Linked DNA regions of Homo sapiens: region 1 is linked to region 2. A link means that fine-mapping ties the variant in region 2 to the expression of a gene that starts in the linked region. Tissue or cell type: stomach. Region 2 holds a variant in brackets; the other region holds the start of a gene. All regions are shown on one strand. Distances are from middle to middle.

The links. PIP is the estimated chance that this variant, and not a neighbour inherited with it, causes the effect.
Region 1: SYNJ2 starts here. The variant in region 2 is fine-mapped to the expression of SYNJ2 in stomach (GTEx, PIP 0.92).

Annotation. Positions count from the first base shown.
Region 1 is chr6:157,977,737-157,985,841 of GRCh38, reverse strand. It overlaps SYNJ2 (synaptojanin 2), which reads right to left and starts at 3,979. Exons shown (of 27, transcript NM_003898.4): 1 at 3,754-3,979. The coding sequence starts at 3,880. RefSeq lists enhancers at 3,698-4,213, 4,414-4,463, 4,484-4,673, 4,214-4,729, 4,694-4,743 and a silencer at 3,714-4,293.
Region 2 is chr6:157,897,973-157,906,077 of GRCh38, reverse strand. SNX9 (sorting nexin 9) reads right to left here. Exons shown (of 18, transcript NM_016224.5): 6 at 4,033-4,180. Among named protein-coding and RNA genes, the nearest start is that of SNX9-AS1, 9.1 kb to the right of the region's middle. The variant C/T (reference allele first, on the strand shown) is at 3,317.

The sequences.
Region 1 (8,105 bases), 80 kb before region 2:
GTCTCCTGCCCCATCCCTCCCTCCCTGCTGCCTGTTCACAGCAAAGCCCGGCTGGGCGGCAGGAGGCACGACTTCACTCACACACAGCCCGCACTGTAAACACAGGGACACCCTCAGGCCACCGTTCCTGGGGGCTGTTGGAGAACCTTGAACTTTGGAACACTGTCGCTTACTCTGAAAATACACAAAATCCATTAACAATAAGCACTTTTCCCTAAGTTTACAAGAGACAGAGACAGGAGTAGGTTTTTGTCCCATGTGCAAATAAGGGAACATCTGTTTGCTAATTGTGGATTGTTGGCCAGGGATGCTGGTACCGGCTACGGGGCTTCCCACCTGTGCTGAGAAGGCCAACTACCCTCCAGTCAGGTTCCCGAGACTTCATAAAAGCCTTTTAAATCAGTGCCAATACATTTGGCTTTTCTGCCTCTGGAATTTTTGCTCCCACTGATCTACATAAAAGACAGATTCAGATTCACAACCTAATTCTTTTAGAAGCAGGAATTTGGAATAATTCCTTCAACAATCCTGCTAGCAGGCCAGACGGCCCTAGTGTGAAGAGTTCACTTTAGAGCAGGACAGGTGAAGACAGGTGAAGACAGGTTCAGATGGAAGGAGTCCAGCAATCAACGAATCATGGACCATCCGTTTTTCCTAAAAATCACAGCCCAGTTCAAGCCCCTGTCTCCAGGCCTTGCCTGAAAATGATAAGGAACCACCCAGCCCCTTCGGCGAGAGGTACTTTTCCAGTTAGGATCCTTCAGGAATAAAATGTGCTATGAAGGGGCAGCGCCTGTGGTCATCAGGCCCAGTCCCCTCATCTCCTCTCGCCCCTAGGAAAGCAGCTATGTGCATCCGCAGCGGAGCAGGATGGAAGTTAGAATGACTCAGGGGCCGGGAAAGACCACTACCCACGAAGCAGTTACCACAACTTGTCTCTCAGCCTCTCATTACTAACTGGGAGGGACCCATCACAGGAAAACCACAGCTGAAGAGAAAAGGAAGCTACCCCCGACTCGGAACTTCAAGGAAAGGGTGAAAGGTCAAGATTAGACCACCAGCTACGCCAGCTGCCACAAGTGTCCTGTCCCATACAAAAGTAGAGATTGCAGCCTTCTTGTAAAAATTCACCTTCTCGGGTCAGGCATGGTGGCTCACGCCTGTAATCCTAGCACTTTGGGAGGCCAAAGCAGGTGGATCACCTAAGGTCAGGAGTTAGAAACCAGCCTGGCCAAAATGGCACAACCCCGTCTCTACTAAAAATACAAAAATTAGCCAGGCATGGTGGCGTGTGCCTGTAATCCTAGCTACTGGGGAGGCTGAGGCAGGAGAATCACTTGAACCCAGGTGGGGGTGGCGGTGTTGCAGTCAGCCGAGATCGCACCACTTCACTCAGCCCAGGCAACAAGAGTGAAGCTCCATCTCAAAAAAAAGAAAAAAAATAATCACTTTCTCCAAGAAAGGAAAGTAAAACAGCTAGCTAGCCCTTTGGAACACAGATGGGAATTTCAAGTTCAGAGCCATTTTATCCAATAGTGATGCATTTAGGATATGTTGAAAGTTTTAAACAACTTTCTAGTAACATAAGGCTCTCTCCTACAAACATTCTCTGGACCAGCAAAGCCACCAAATGCTACAGCTGCTTTTTAAAAATAGTTTCATTTTACTTAAACAAAACAGACTTTAAAAAATTAAGTTTTCAGGCCAGACGCAGTAAGTAGTTCATGCCTGTAATCCCAACGCTTTGGGAGACCAAGGCGGAAAGATCACCTGAGCCCAGGAGTTCGAGAACAGCATGGGCAACATAGTAAGACCCCATTTAAAGAAAAGAAAAGAAAGAGAAAAAATTAGCCAGGCATGGTGGCATGTGCCTATAGTCCCAGCTACTCAGGAGGCTGAGGCAGGAGGATCGCTTGAGCCTGGGAAGTTGAGGCTGCAGTGGGCTGTGACTGTGCCACTGCATGCCAGCCTAGGCAACAGAAGAAGCCTCTGTTTCAAAAAAAAAAAAAATTTTTTTTTAAAGTTTTCTACTGAAAAATGAATGCTAGGTTAAATGACAAATGTGGACTGCACATGAGTTGAAGACGAGCCAATTCCTTTCTTACATTCTCTGTTCTAAAATCTGGTATACTGTAATCACCACCGTGATGTAAATCTCAGCCCAAACTTCAGCTCCTAATGGAAAATATGCACTACATTACTGTCATTAATCATTTTTAAATCTTCACTTTTGAAAAAATAAAATCTCTTTTTTCTAAGCTGCTTCAAAGAATTCTTGAATGTGTATGAACTTGGCTTAATGTTGCCGTAATCCAACTGAAGGACATCTTAATCTATTTGATGAAACAGTAGTTTTGTACCATGAAATTACTCTTTCGCTTCCGATAAATGTGGTATGAAGTAGACATCTAAAATGGAATGGAAATTTCTGTGGTTTTCTTTCAAGGCCACACCAAATAACCAAACTTAGACTCTTCAGGACAGCACAAATTAGAATAATCTGAAAATAACTTAATCTACAATTCACTGCCTACTTTTGATGCTGAGACTACTGGAGACATTGTTTCAGTAATCAAGTGACTGAGAACAAGCTGGATAAATGCATGTTAATGAAATGATTAGGGAATCAGAAATAGGAGAGATAGTCCTTCCAAGACATACATCCGAACGGGAGTCGATGCATACAAATGTGAAAAGAAGGCTAGAGGCATCTACAAAGCAGCCTGCTGCATTTGCCGACCACCTCAAGTACGAGTGACCCCGGGCTGCACCTTGTTTAGCTAGGAATACCGGCAAGCTGTTACAGCTGGACGCCTAGTGGTGGGAGCTTACTCTCGGGTGTCCACATTTAGAAGTCTAACAATCAGACCTGGTTTCACGTGCTTTGGTGCTACCCAGGTTTTCCTTATAATGGTTAGCACAAAACAAGGGACCCAGGTTAGCGATACCAGGAAGCCACGCATTGAATGACATTACAGAAACAGCCACATAAAAGTCAGGTGGATGGTGTCACCTTGGCAAGCAACTTAGCCTCTTTAGGCCTCAGTTTGCTCATCTGCAAAATGGGGATAATAATAGCTTTTTAGTAGAATTGTGAGAATTAAGTGAGATCACGTACTAAAGCCCATAGCACAATGCCAGTTTCAAGGCTTCTGAAGTCCATAGGTGAAATTCGCTGGCTTGGCAGGATCTAAGACAGCATAAAGGTCATGGTATATTTGTTTACAAGTTCTATAAATTGCAGCACCGATGCTTCTCGACCAAGTATTTACGTGGGACAAAGCTGCCATCAGCGGTTTCTCCAGAGCCTATGTTTTGGGGCTTTTGTCCCCATCCCCTCCAGGAGTGGAGCCGCCAACACAAACCAAAGGGCAATCACTGGTTTCATCAACAGGTGCAAAAGAAAAGGCGCCAGGCACAGGGTCAGGCCGGCTAAGTCAACACCCCGGGATCCTCATGAATACGCAAAGCGCCCCAGCCGGCTATCCAGCAACCATATCCTCTGGCGGCGCGGGCCGGAGATCCCCGTGGAGGGGCGGCCGGCCTCCGTGCGCCACCGGCCCAGCCAGAGTGCTCTCTCGAGTCCCCAGCCCCACTTCATTCAAACAGCCACCCCTCTGCGCGCGACCCCTACGCCCCGGCAGTCCCAGCGCCGCCCGATCCCCTCGGGAAGGGGGGGTACCCGTCTTCCCGAGGCTGGGCGAATGCGGGCGCCCTCTCCTCCGGGCGTCGCTGCCCCCGGCCCGGACTCACCCAGCGTGGCCACCGTGCCGGCCTCGAACAGCAGGCAGTCGTCGCGGCCGCGCGCCTCCAGCAGCACGCTACAGTCCCCCTCGGCCCCCAGGCGCCCCAGCAGCCGCAGCCCTTTGCTCAGGGCCATGAGGGTCGGGCCCACTGCGGGCGGGGGCCGGGGCCACGTCCTCCCGAGGGCGCGCTGCCCGCGACAGCTCCCCGCGCGCCCGCAACTTGCCAGAGTTTCACTTTGCGCCGCCGCTCCCGCCGCGCCAGGCTCCTCCCCGGCCTCCTCCCCTTCCTCCTCCTCCCCACTCGCGCCTCCCCAGCCTGGGGCAGGTGAGGGCGCGCCGCCGCCTCCCGCCCGGCCCCGCGCTCCCCCCAGCGGCCAGGCAGCTGCGCGAGGCCGCGCCCCGGGGCTGAGGCTCCCCGCAGGCGGGCGTGGAGCGGAAGAGCCTCCCGGATGCCACGCATTCCTCGCTGCGGAGGAGGATGCCCCGCGCGGGGCGACCCCGGGAGCCTGGCTGCGATGCCGGCCGCCCGCAGCCTTATATGGGCAGCCCGGCCCGGGAGTCCGCCAGGCTGGACCCGCTGACTGTTCCCGCCGGGGGCGCTGCGCCTCCCTGTGTGGTCGGCTCCTGCGACCCTGGACGAGTCCTTTCGACCCTGCGTGCCTCGGTCTCCCTGCGGGGAAGCGGGGTCATAACTGCGCCTACTTCGGCGCGGAGGCCTGAGTTAATTCGCGGAGGCGCTTAGCGGGTGCGGAGCGCGTGGAGCGGGCTGGAGAAAGGTTACCTTTCACTAGCGTTCTATCCCGGAGGCTGTTGCGGTCACCGACCCCGCCAGGGAGAGGTGTTGGGGGTCAACGGTGCGTTGTCGCGAAGAGACCTGGAGCCGTGATCCCCAGACCACGACCCCCACTTACCACGTGACCCTGACTTCTCTGCGCTCCACCTTCCTCTCCTGTCAGATGGTGACAGCGCCTCTCCCACCGGCTCTGGACACCGGCACGTGTCCGCGCGTGTACGCTGGAGTGTGTGGCCCGGCCTTCTGGCGCGGGGTTCTAGCGCCCAGGCTTGGCCTGTCAGAGCTGCAGGGGAGGTGGGGTGGGTATGGGTGTTTAGGGCTGAGTTGGAGTCACTCTTTGGGGTGGTTTGGCGGCTTAATTCCCTTCGCTTGTGATGGGTACGTGAGGATGGCCCGAGAAGCCTCCATCAGCTGTTTCCATCCTGCCCGCAAACGAACTCAGTTCCTCTCTCACCCCATTCTGCTGTACTGGGCCAAGCTGTTTGTCTCTGGGACTTGTCCTAGAAAGGGCAGAGCCCCCAGAGCCAAGCAGAACACTGCCATGCCCCTGCAGACATTCAGTAATGACCAGACAAGCCATCCTCAGGGGACAACCTCTCAGGTGATGGTTGGGTAATAAATTTGAACAACCCCAGCAGAGATTATCTTGACCCTTAGCCCCTTTCCTTGCCCACAAACTCTGCCCAGGTCAAGCATGATGTGCTCAATATCCCAGGCATGATGCTCATCAGCTGTCCGAGCAGCTTCTTTCTGTGTAGATGGAAACATTACTACCTCATGAAAACAGTGTGCCCATTCAGTGAGGCAGATCAGCCTTTGGCCCACTTTTTGACCTGAAACTCACTTCTTCCAGGAAGCTTTCCTGGAATGCTGAGGTCCCAGATAATAGTGCTTATATAACACCCAGATTTACAGACTTCAGTTCTCACCTACTCATATGTTGCTTGAGAAGTGTTTTTATGTTTTCTCTTAGCCCTGTTTTGCAAATTGAGTGGTAAGGCCTTAGGGAGGGGACCCAGTCTTCCATTTATCTCTCTCTCCTCTTTCCTAACTAGCATCATATAGTCTAAAGTCCTGCACAGTGGCATGCCATACCTATTTTAGAAATTTTCCTGCAGTCAGGACCAGCAGTTGAGCCTCACAGCTTATAGAATCCAAGTCACCATCAACTGTAAAATGAACCACTATTTTATGTACCACTGAGAAAAAAAAAAAAACTTCCAATTAAACTAGAACATGCCACCAATAGTCATCTCTGCCCTGATTTAGACAATGTTAAAATGCACGTCTCAGACTCAAGGAACTACAGTGGCTGTTCCTCCGTCTCTGAGAAATGGCTGGGTGAGCCAAGAGCCTGCTGGGTTTTGGGGCCTCTGCTGTCTGGTTTCAGGTGGGACAGCCCACCTGGGTGGCAGAGGGAGCAGCTTCCTCACATGCGCACTGGCTTGATAGACCAAGGGTACCCAGGCACAGGCACCTTTCGCAGATGGAGCAACTGACCTTGAGGCCTTCAAGGAAAAGGTTGGCTCAGACACCTAAACCCCCAGCGGCGTTTGGGCAAAGGGGTGGGCCCATCTGCGGCAGGAGAGTTGGGCGCTTCCCCTCTCTGAGATGTATAATGCCTGGAGGGTAGGGAATTGGGAAGGGGAGGAGATGGGGAAGGAAGCAAAAGCCAACTCCACCAGCCCCAGAGTAAGCCACAGCAGGAAATGTAGCTCAGCGTGGTGTGGGTGAGGGAGTCAGGAACCCCAACAGGTTATCAGAGGAAACAAAGAGGGGAAGTAGGGGAGACATGCACTGAACGTTTGAGCCACCCTATCCCCACCCCCTGTTGCCCTACCAAATCCATATGTTGAAGCCCTGACCCCCAGTGGAATGGTTTTTAGAGATGGAACCTTTAGGAGCTCGTTAGGGTCAGATGACGTCATGCCAGTGGGGCCCTCTCAATAAGAATGATAGGATTAGTGTCCTTAGAAGAAGAGACAGGCCAGGCGCGGTGGCTCATGCCTGTAATCCCAGCACTTTGGGAAGCCAAGGTGGGTGAATCACTTGAGATCAGGAGTTTGAGACCACCCTGGCCAACATGGCAAAACCCCATCTCTACTAAAAATACAAAAAAATTCACTGGATGTGGTGGTGTGTGCCTGTAATCCCAGCTACTCGGGAGACTGAGGCAGGAGAATCACTTGAACCCGGGAGGCAGAGGTTGCAGTGAGCAGAGATGGAGCCACTGTACTCCAGCCTGGGCAATAGAGCACGACTCTGTCTCAAAGAAGGAAAAACAAAAAAAAAAAAAAAGAAGAGACACAGAGGGAAGGGCCTGAGCATCTGCCGGCCAGGAAGACGGCCCTCAGCAAGAGCCACATCAGCTGGCACCTTGATCTCAGAATTTCTAGCTTCTAGAACTGAGAAATAAATTTCTATTGTTTAAGCCACTGGCCTGTGGTATTTTATTGCGGAAGCCTGTATTATTAGTCTATTTGTGTTACTATAAAGGAATACCTGAGACTGGGTATTTATAAAGAAAATAGATGTCATTGGCTCACGCTTCCACAGGCTGTACAGGAAGCATGGTGCTGGCGTCTGCTTCTGGGGAGGCCTCAGGAGGCTTACAGTCATGGTGGAAGGCAACCAGGAACCAGCATGTCACGTGGTGAGATTAGAGCAGGAGAGCTGGGGGGAGGTGCCGCACTCTTTCAAACACTCAGATCTCCCGTGAACTAACTGAGCAAGAACTCACTTATCATCAAGAAGATGGTACTAAACCATTCATGAGAGGTCCACCCTCATGATGCAATCCTCCCACCAGGCCCCACCTCCAGCACTGGGGATTACATTTCAACAGGAGATTTGGAGTGGACAGACATCTAACCCCTATCAGAGCCCGAGCCGAGTAAGACAGGAGAGGTTTAAAGGAAATACAAATCTGTATTTGGTGCCTGATTGTATGATATGAGCTGCACAAAGGAAAGTGGGAAGTCAGACAGGACCCTGGCATTTTGAGAATGGGACAGCAGCGATACCATCCCAGAGTGAGGAGGAGGCGAGTTTAATTGGAGACAGAGACCGGGTGGGCAGGTCGTCCAGTGGGAAATGCCTACAGATGAGGGGCCAGAAATGAGTATGGCAGCGATCAAAGGGGAGTGGAGACAGACAGGGGTAGAAGGCAGGGGCAGGAGGAAAAGACGATCAAGAAGTACCCCGAGAAAGCAGAGGGGCCAAGGGCGTGACCTGGACAGCTCTGGATCTCACATGAACTGAGTGAAAACTCATCGTCTAGAGGATGGCGCTAAACCATTCCTGAGGGCTCCTCCCTCTCAGAAAAGGAGGCATTTTTTAACAGACCGGAAGGAGGTAAGAGAAACAGCCATCAGGCATCTGGGGCTACAGCCTCCCACATGCAAAAGCCCTGAGAGGTGACTGGTTTAAAAACCTCAGGAAGGTATCCAAGAATCAGGACTCAGAAAAGAAACTTGGTTTGGTGAGAAGGTAACGGGGACCTTTGAGGGGGCAGCTTCACTAGAGGGCTGGGCAAAAAAGCCAGCTTGCAAAGAAATAAGGAAGAA
Region 2 (8,105 bases):
TTTTACAACTCTCGTCTACATTTACTTACCAGTTTTAACCTTGTCCTGTCTTTCGGGTGCACTAGAACTGGAAACTGTGGTAAATGAAACCTAATGTAATCAGATTGTTCAATGGCCAATTAGGCATTTAATTAAGCTTGATCTGGTAAACAGAACAGTTTGACTCCAGAAGGTGTGATGTTTACGGGCACTCTATTTGCTTGACTGTGTCTGAAACATTCGGTCACCCCAGAGTGAAGGGCAGACCTGAAAAAACGCCCCCCTAGTTCCCTGGGGCAGTGAGTAGTGAGCACGCCAATCTGAGTTGGCCACAGGGGGCAATAGCCACATGCTGGCATTTCTACATCCAAATTAAAGTTGCCTTTCAACAGGCTCTCTCCAGAGGCCACAACTGTCCCAAAGGGGCTGTCCTGCTCATCAGCATATGTGCTTGTTTCTTTTGGAATTGCCTTCAGAAGCAGTTCATGACAGCGGAAAACAAGTCTCTTTAGTAGAGACCCAAAGTGTAATCAATAAATTTGGCTATGGGGAGGGGGTGGGGGGGAGGTCACTTAAGACTCAAAAACTTAAATAAACTTGACTACTTCCAGAAATCACATCTATATCCAAAGGACATTTCTGAAATTAGAGGACAGCTAGAACATAGCCATCCAAAGGGCTACTGAAAAAGACAAGATTAATTTGGGTTTTAGAATTTTTCTTTTAGTAAACAGAAGAAAAGGAAGCAAAATATCTACAATGGGAAAAGGAATCTTATTTCTACGAAGTTCCAGTCGCATTGCTTCTACTTTCATTCATGTGCCAAGCCAAAGGCCAGTGTGATGCTCTCAGGGGCCCGTGTCTTCTTTTCCTGCATTCTCAGCTGACTTCCCTTGAGTCTCCTTTCTCTAGACATTCCTTTAAAACGCAGCTTACACAAGAGACCAGATGTGTCCTGCAGCTGGATGGCATGGGGTTTGAATTCTGACTCCAACACTTAGGTAGCCTTAGGGGCTGAAATCTCCTTGTGGAAGAATGAGACCAGAATGACCTACCTTCTAAGGTGATAAGGGAATTAAAGATTTATGTAAAGAACCTAGTATGTACTCAGTACATTTCAGTCATTGGCAACTAAGTCATCCTCTCTTTGGAAGTACTCCCTGCAGCCGCAGGTAGAGTCTTCCTAGGCATTTTGAGCATATTTTGTGATTCTATTCATCACACCTGACTGCCGCTATCCATTTACCTATTACAGCAGCCAGAGGGACTTAGAGGAAGCATTTGTGTTTTCAGGACCTGGAGGAGTTTTGGGAGCATACTGAATGCTTAATGAATTAGGCTAACCTGCAACACTTTTATTTATTAATTACTCTATTTTATTTATTTTTTTGAGACAGAGTCTCACTCTGTCGCCAGGCTGGAGTACAGTGGCGCGATCTCGGCTCACTGTAACCTCCACCTCCTGGTTCAAGCGATTATCCTGCCTCAGTCTCCCAAGTAGCTGGGACTACAGGTGCGCTTCTGTGGGGATTATATATCATGACAACTCCTTGACCAGCTTGTAAGCATTTCAATTTTTGGGCACTGTTATGGACCACAGAAAAATTTGAGGACAGCAATGTATTAATTATTTCAGCATCATCAAGATGCCTTTTATTTTTTTTTTGGAGACAGAGTCTCTGTGTCGCCCAAGCTGGAGTGCAGTGGTGCCATCTCGGCTCACTGCAACCTCCGTCTCCCGGGTTCAAGCGATTCTCCTGCCTGAGCCTTCCAAGTAGCTAGGATTACAGGCGTGCCACCACGCCCAGCTACTTTTTTATATTTTTGGTACAGATTGAGGTTTCACCATGTTGGCCAGGCTGGTCTCGAATTCCTGACCTCGTGATCTGCCTGCCTCGGCCTCCCAAAGTGCTAGGATTACAGACATGAGGCACTGCACCTGGCCCAAGGTGAATTCTTATAGTGCTCAAGTATATTTAATTTCAGATCTCTTTTTCTAGTATAAGATTTATGTTCCATGACTAGAATACAGCTGTCATATAAAATGGATTAATTGCTGAAAAAGTGTTAATACTTAAAAACATTTTTTATAATTGTTTTAAGTTTAAGTGACTCATTTATACAGTTTAGTTAAATACAAATACACAGGGTGTTAAATCGTTCACAGCACTACAGAGAGACAGAGATGCCTCAGAGGCACAGGTTCAAGTTAGGACTGCTTTAATGTGGTTTCAGCCTGGAATGATATTTTAGAGCAGAAAGAATTCTTAAAGCCAACCTCCTTGCTTTCGAGATGAAGAAACTGAGGTTCCAACAGGTCACGAAACTTGCCTTAAGGTTATAAGCAAATCAGAGAGCAAGTGTGGAGCAGAGGAGAGCACCAAAAACCAGAGTCAGAGACCCCCAGGCATGAGCTGGAACCTCACTCATCAGCCATGAAAACGTGGCCACTCATTTTTCTCAGTCTCTGCTTCCTTCGTTTTCAAAATGGGGCTAATTTATATGAATTTTCAATATACTTTATATTCACATTTAAAGAACAGCTGACAATGATGCACATCACTACTGACCATGACTGAAAACTTCAAATTTGACTCTGAAACAAGACACAGTTGACTAACAAGACAGAGAATTATTCACTTTATTATGCATGCAATTGAGCAGGAAAATATATAATGGAAGAAACTGGGTAAGAGGCAGCAAAAGTGTGCAGTCAAAAGAGAACTCATTTAATCACTGAAGCTATTTAAATATACTTTGGAGAACTTGTAGGACTTATTAAACTAGATCTAGACCTAGATCTTGATGTCTAAATATATGTCAAATGTTATGTTTTTAATTTTTCCAGACACAGATTAACATTCTTTGATATCTGCCTTGAATCATGGAATTGGAATATTGGGAAAAAGTATTAGTAATTTCAAAAAATAAACTAAACATAACTGCTGGAAGGAGTACTTGAAAATTCTGATGGAAGTCATAAATTACTAATATATCTCCTTCAAGCTACACTGGCATAGACTACAGCCTTATTTAGGTCTCTCCAAAGAATCCTACAGTGGTCACTGGTGCCCACATGCTTTCCTGTTAAGTAGGGTATCTACAAGTACTGTTAAAAACTTTTTTTTTTTGGCTAGGTGTGGTGGCTCAAGCCTGTAATCCCAGCACTTTGGGAGGTAGAGGCGGGCGGATCACTTGAGACCAGGAGCTTGAGACCAGCCTGGCCAACGTGGTAAAACCTCGTCTCTACTAAAAATACAAAAATTAGCTGGGCGCGGTGGCACATGTTTGTAATCCCAGCTACTCAGGTGGCTGAGGCACGAGAATTGCTTGAACC[C/T]GGGACGTTGGGGTTGCAGTGAACCAAGATCGCACCACTGCACTTCAGCCTGGGTGACAGAGCGAGACGCCTGTCTCAAAACAAAAAAATAAAACACAACACTTTTTTTTTTGTTTTAAATCTAAGAGAAACCTAAGCTAACACAAAGCTCCGGACCACGTTTTTAGGCACAGGAGCTGAAACACGTGCTTTGGCGCCTGAGGGCCTGGCTTCCTGACTGGAACACTCGATGCGTCTCTCTGGGCATCAGTTTGCCTGCAGTAAAACAGGGGTTTTATGTACCACAAAGGGATATGAGGGCTACATGCGAATGATACAAACCTCTCTGCACAATGCCTGGCACATGGCAAGTGATTAACAAAACAGTAAAACATTTAAAAGAGAGTTGTTATTATTATTCTTTTTAGCTTTCCTGTGACATTAGCAATGAAACCTTAATATGTCATAAATTGATAAAGCTAGAAGTAATGAAAACAGTTTGGGAAATCATTAAATAAAATAAATATTTCACTTATTAACCTTGTAAATCAAAAATCCTTTTTTTTTTTTAAGTAAGCTTCTCAGTTAAGATCCAAATAAAAATAACTGAATCATATCCAAAACTTAGGAGATCACTGGAAAGGGAAAAGGCCAGCTGCCTCTTGGTAGGGTATATACTTTGTATTAATGTATACTTCTACCACGGCCCTGGTTCCCTGGCTCCCCTTTAAACTTACTTGTTAAGGGGAATTTTCATGGATGAGGAACTAGCACGACTGTTTCCTCGCTGAGCGCCGCCTGCATCAGCTGACTCTGAATCCTTAAAGTAGGAAGAGGATTTGGGCCCATCCCAGTCTTCATCCCAGTCATCATCATCACCAGTTGCTAGAGGTGAAAATGGAAGATCATCAGTTAAAAAAAAAAAAAAGACCAAAATAAAAATGAAATTACTTAATTTTCTGACAGTAACTACCTACTGGGCAAATCAATTTTTTTTTGATGGAGAAAAGGGTATAGTATAGGAGTATAATATGGATGTTAAGAGTAAAGGCTGTGTAGTCAATTTTAAGCCTTGAATTACAGATTCTTTTAGTGCAAAAGACAAATCAGAAGCAACTTAAAGAGGGCTATCAGATTACTTTTAAATTTTTGACACGGGCACCGAGATGACACAGTGGAGAAAGGGCAGTCTCTTTAGTAAGTCGTGCTGGGAAAACCAGGTATCTACATGCAAAAGAATAAAACTGGACCTTGTCTTACACCACACACAAAAATCAACTTAAAATAGATTACAGACCTAAATGGAAGACCTGAAACCACACAACTCCTAGAAGGAAACACAGGGGAAAAGCTCCTTGGCGCTGGCCTTGGCAAATGTTTTTTTGAGTATTACACCAAAAGCACAGGGAACAAAGTCAAAAATAACAGGCGGGACTACATGGAACTAAAAAGCTTCTGAACAGCAAAGGAAACAATCAAAATGAAAAGGTAGCCTATGGGCTGGTGTAGGGAGACCCCCTGAAACTATTGCTATGGAATAAAAGATGAAATGCTCCTGATTATTGTAAATACAAAATTGCATGCAGGATTGTGTAAAGACAGTGCCAGGTGGGACTGCCAGAATGAGCCAACAGCATGTGATGTGCTTCCCCCTGCAGAGAGCCTATGAATGGATGTGCAGTCAGGGAGGTTTCACATCACCAAGATTCCTATCCCAGAAAAGCAGATATTCATAGCTCTGGGAATGGAAAGTGACCCTTGTAAAGAGCCTATAAACAGACACATGGGGGCACCGTCCATATGGATAAGATAGGGCTATAAACGCCCTCATCTTGCCAGGGCTCTTCTGGGCCTCTTTAGGGTTAAGGCATACTCCCTTCTGAGAATTTCTGGTCTAACAGGTTGTCTAGCTTCACGTCCTGTTTCTACGGATTGTTTGTAACCAGCTTTTGCTGCAACTGTTACTGCTGATTAATATCTTGCTAATCATAGGTTATGGAAAGACTGTGTTTCTGTTTTAAGGCTCTGTCAGAAATTACTGATGCATACACTATATTGTAAATTCTTATCTCTGTATACTGTACTTCTGCATACAGATGTTATGTTAAAGAATTACTTCATCCCCATGTGACCATCTCACCTCATAATCAAATGACCCTAAATCCCTCACTAACCTACCCCCGCCCTCACTAAACTTAATAATAAATGCTGGTATATCCAGTGCATTGTTGGCACTGCAGGACCAGAAGGCAGTGACCCCCCCGGACCCAGCTTTCGCTATCTTGTGTGTGTCTATTATTTCTCAACGGGCCGATCCGCCTGGGAACACAAAGAGAACCCCGTTGCATTGCGGGCTGCTGGCCAGATCCCGCAATAGGCTGGGAGAAAATATTTGCGAGCCATGTATCTGATAACCTGTTAATATTCAAAACATATAATGAACTCGCACAATTCAATAGCAAATAAAAAAAGCTCAATTAAAAAATGGACAAAGGACCCAAATTGACATTTTTCCAAAGAAGACCAAAAAATGGCCAAGAGGTATATGAAAATGCACTCAACATCACACACAAAGAAAAATACCACATGGATCTTATTTACATGTGGAACTTTTAACAGGTCTTTAAAAAAATCTAAAAAACTTATAGAAGCAGAAAGTAGAAAGGTGGTTACCAGGGGCAGGGAGACGGGGAACTAGGGAGATGCAGGTCAAAGGTACAAAGTTGCAGTCATGTAGGATAAGTCTAGAGATCTCATGTACAGCATGAGGACTACAGTTAATGATATTGCATTATATTTGGGAAACCTGCTGAGGGAGATTTTAGGTGCTCTTACCACACACACACCCACAGGCACGCACTTGCACATATACACGCGCACACACACACACTTAGGTAATCATGTGAGGTGAGGGATATGTTAAGCGCTTGGCTGTAGTAATGATTTCAGTATATACATGTATATTACAACATCACGCTGTATACCTCAAATATAGATAATTTTTTTTTTGAGACGGAGCCTCGCTTTGTTGGCCAGGCTGGAGTGCAGTGGCGCAATCTTGGCTCCCTGCAAGCTCCGCCTCCTGGGTTCAGGCCATTCTCCTGCCTCAGCTTCCCGAGTAGCTGGGACTACAGGCGCCTGCCACCACACCCGGCTAATTTTTTTTCTATTTTTAGTAGAGATGGGGTTTCACCGTGTTAGCCAGGATGGCCTTGATCTCCTGACCTTGTGATCCGCCTGCCTCGGCCTCCCAAACTGCTGGGATTACAGGCGTGAAAATATAGATAATTTTTTTAAAGGGCTGTCAGTCCACATCACTTCAGATAAATGCAGACTGTAAGAATGTTAAGTGGTACACAGTAGAAAAGACTTCTAGAGGCCTAGACACTGATAAATCTAGTCTTATACATTTACAAATAAGCAGAATACCCTTTAATTCTAGAGGCTTGGGGAGGACGAAAGGGACGACAGAACTTTGAAAAGCAGCTGTTTAACACTAACAATAAAGGGGAGAGAAGGGCAACGAGGGGGACATTAAAAAGACCGAGTTGGGGTGTGGGAGAAAAAGATGAGAGTGAAGAAGTAATTAAGCAGCATCAGTAGCTACTATTCTGACAATAATCCCCGTGTCAGATAAGGTGCTGTGGGCTCTCCTCCTTCTCCTTCCTCCCCTGTGGGCTCTCCTCCTTCTCCTTCCTCCCCTGTGGGCTCTCCTCCTTCTCCTTCCTCCCCTACTCTAACGGCCTGAGTGTCCTTTAGTGTCAGGTCCTAAGAGTGCCATTATGGAGAAGCCGAGAGACAAATGCCAAATGGGAGAAGAACAAACTATGAGAAGGATGTGGGCCAAGTGACCAGAGAGCCAGACCCCAGGAGTCTCCCAACGCTTCTACCCAGCCCACACCCCTGGTCCTGCTGACAGGCAGCTCCTGTCTATGACTGCCAGCCTTCAGCCGGGACCTGCACCCTGCTTTGGGCTTACAAGTGAGGTCCTTGCTGTTTAGAACAGACATTCAATTCTTGGCCCAATGTGCTTACAGAGGAGACAGGGTTCAGGAATTGTTAAAAAATAATGGGAGACTACCTTCTTATTTAATTTCAGATCAGACATAAATACCCTTAATTCCCAAATTATTTCCCATTCCACACATTTCTCTTCTGCCTCAGTATTTCTATTCATAGCCTAGTCAAACAGGAAGTTAAAACAGTGAATGCAGAGGTCTTAAACCAGCAGGATGAGCCACATCCCATCCACATACACGTTTCTGGCTCAAGATTTTAAAACAAACGTGTTAGCTGCTGAGATGTTAAAATCAGAAGGTGACAAATAACCAAGACTTCTCATCTCTCTGAAGATGTGGAGATCAGAACGTGGGCTCAGCTTCCCTGCAAATGCAGTGATCCACGGGCGACAGCAGGGGCCCTCAGCCTTCTGCAGCCTCCACCGCCCATTCTGCTTTTACTTTACCAACCCAGCGTTTGAATCTGTGACTTCACACAGATAAGTAAGACTGAACTAAAGTTAGAGTTAATGACCATCTACAATTGAATCCAGGTTTGCTACTAGTGAATAAGGGCAACTGCAAGCAGTTCTTTTGAATAAAATCTATTTTCAACTCAATGACCCAGAGTGGTATTGTGAGGTAAGAAATAGCCATCTGGTCTGCGTCCCTAGTTCCCGGCACAGAGCTCCTAAAACTCTTGTAACTTCCTGAATGTTAGGTGTGCAAGGTGTATCTTTTGTTCTGATATTTGGTCTCTGACCCTGGCTCCTGACACAGATCTCCTAACCCTTGGAATTTCCCGGGTGGTA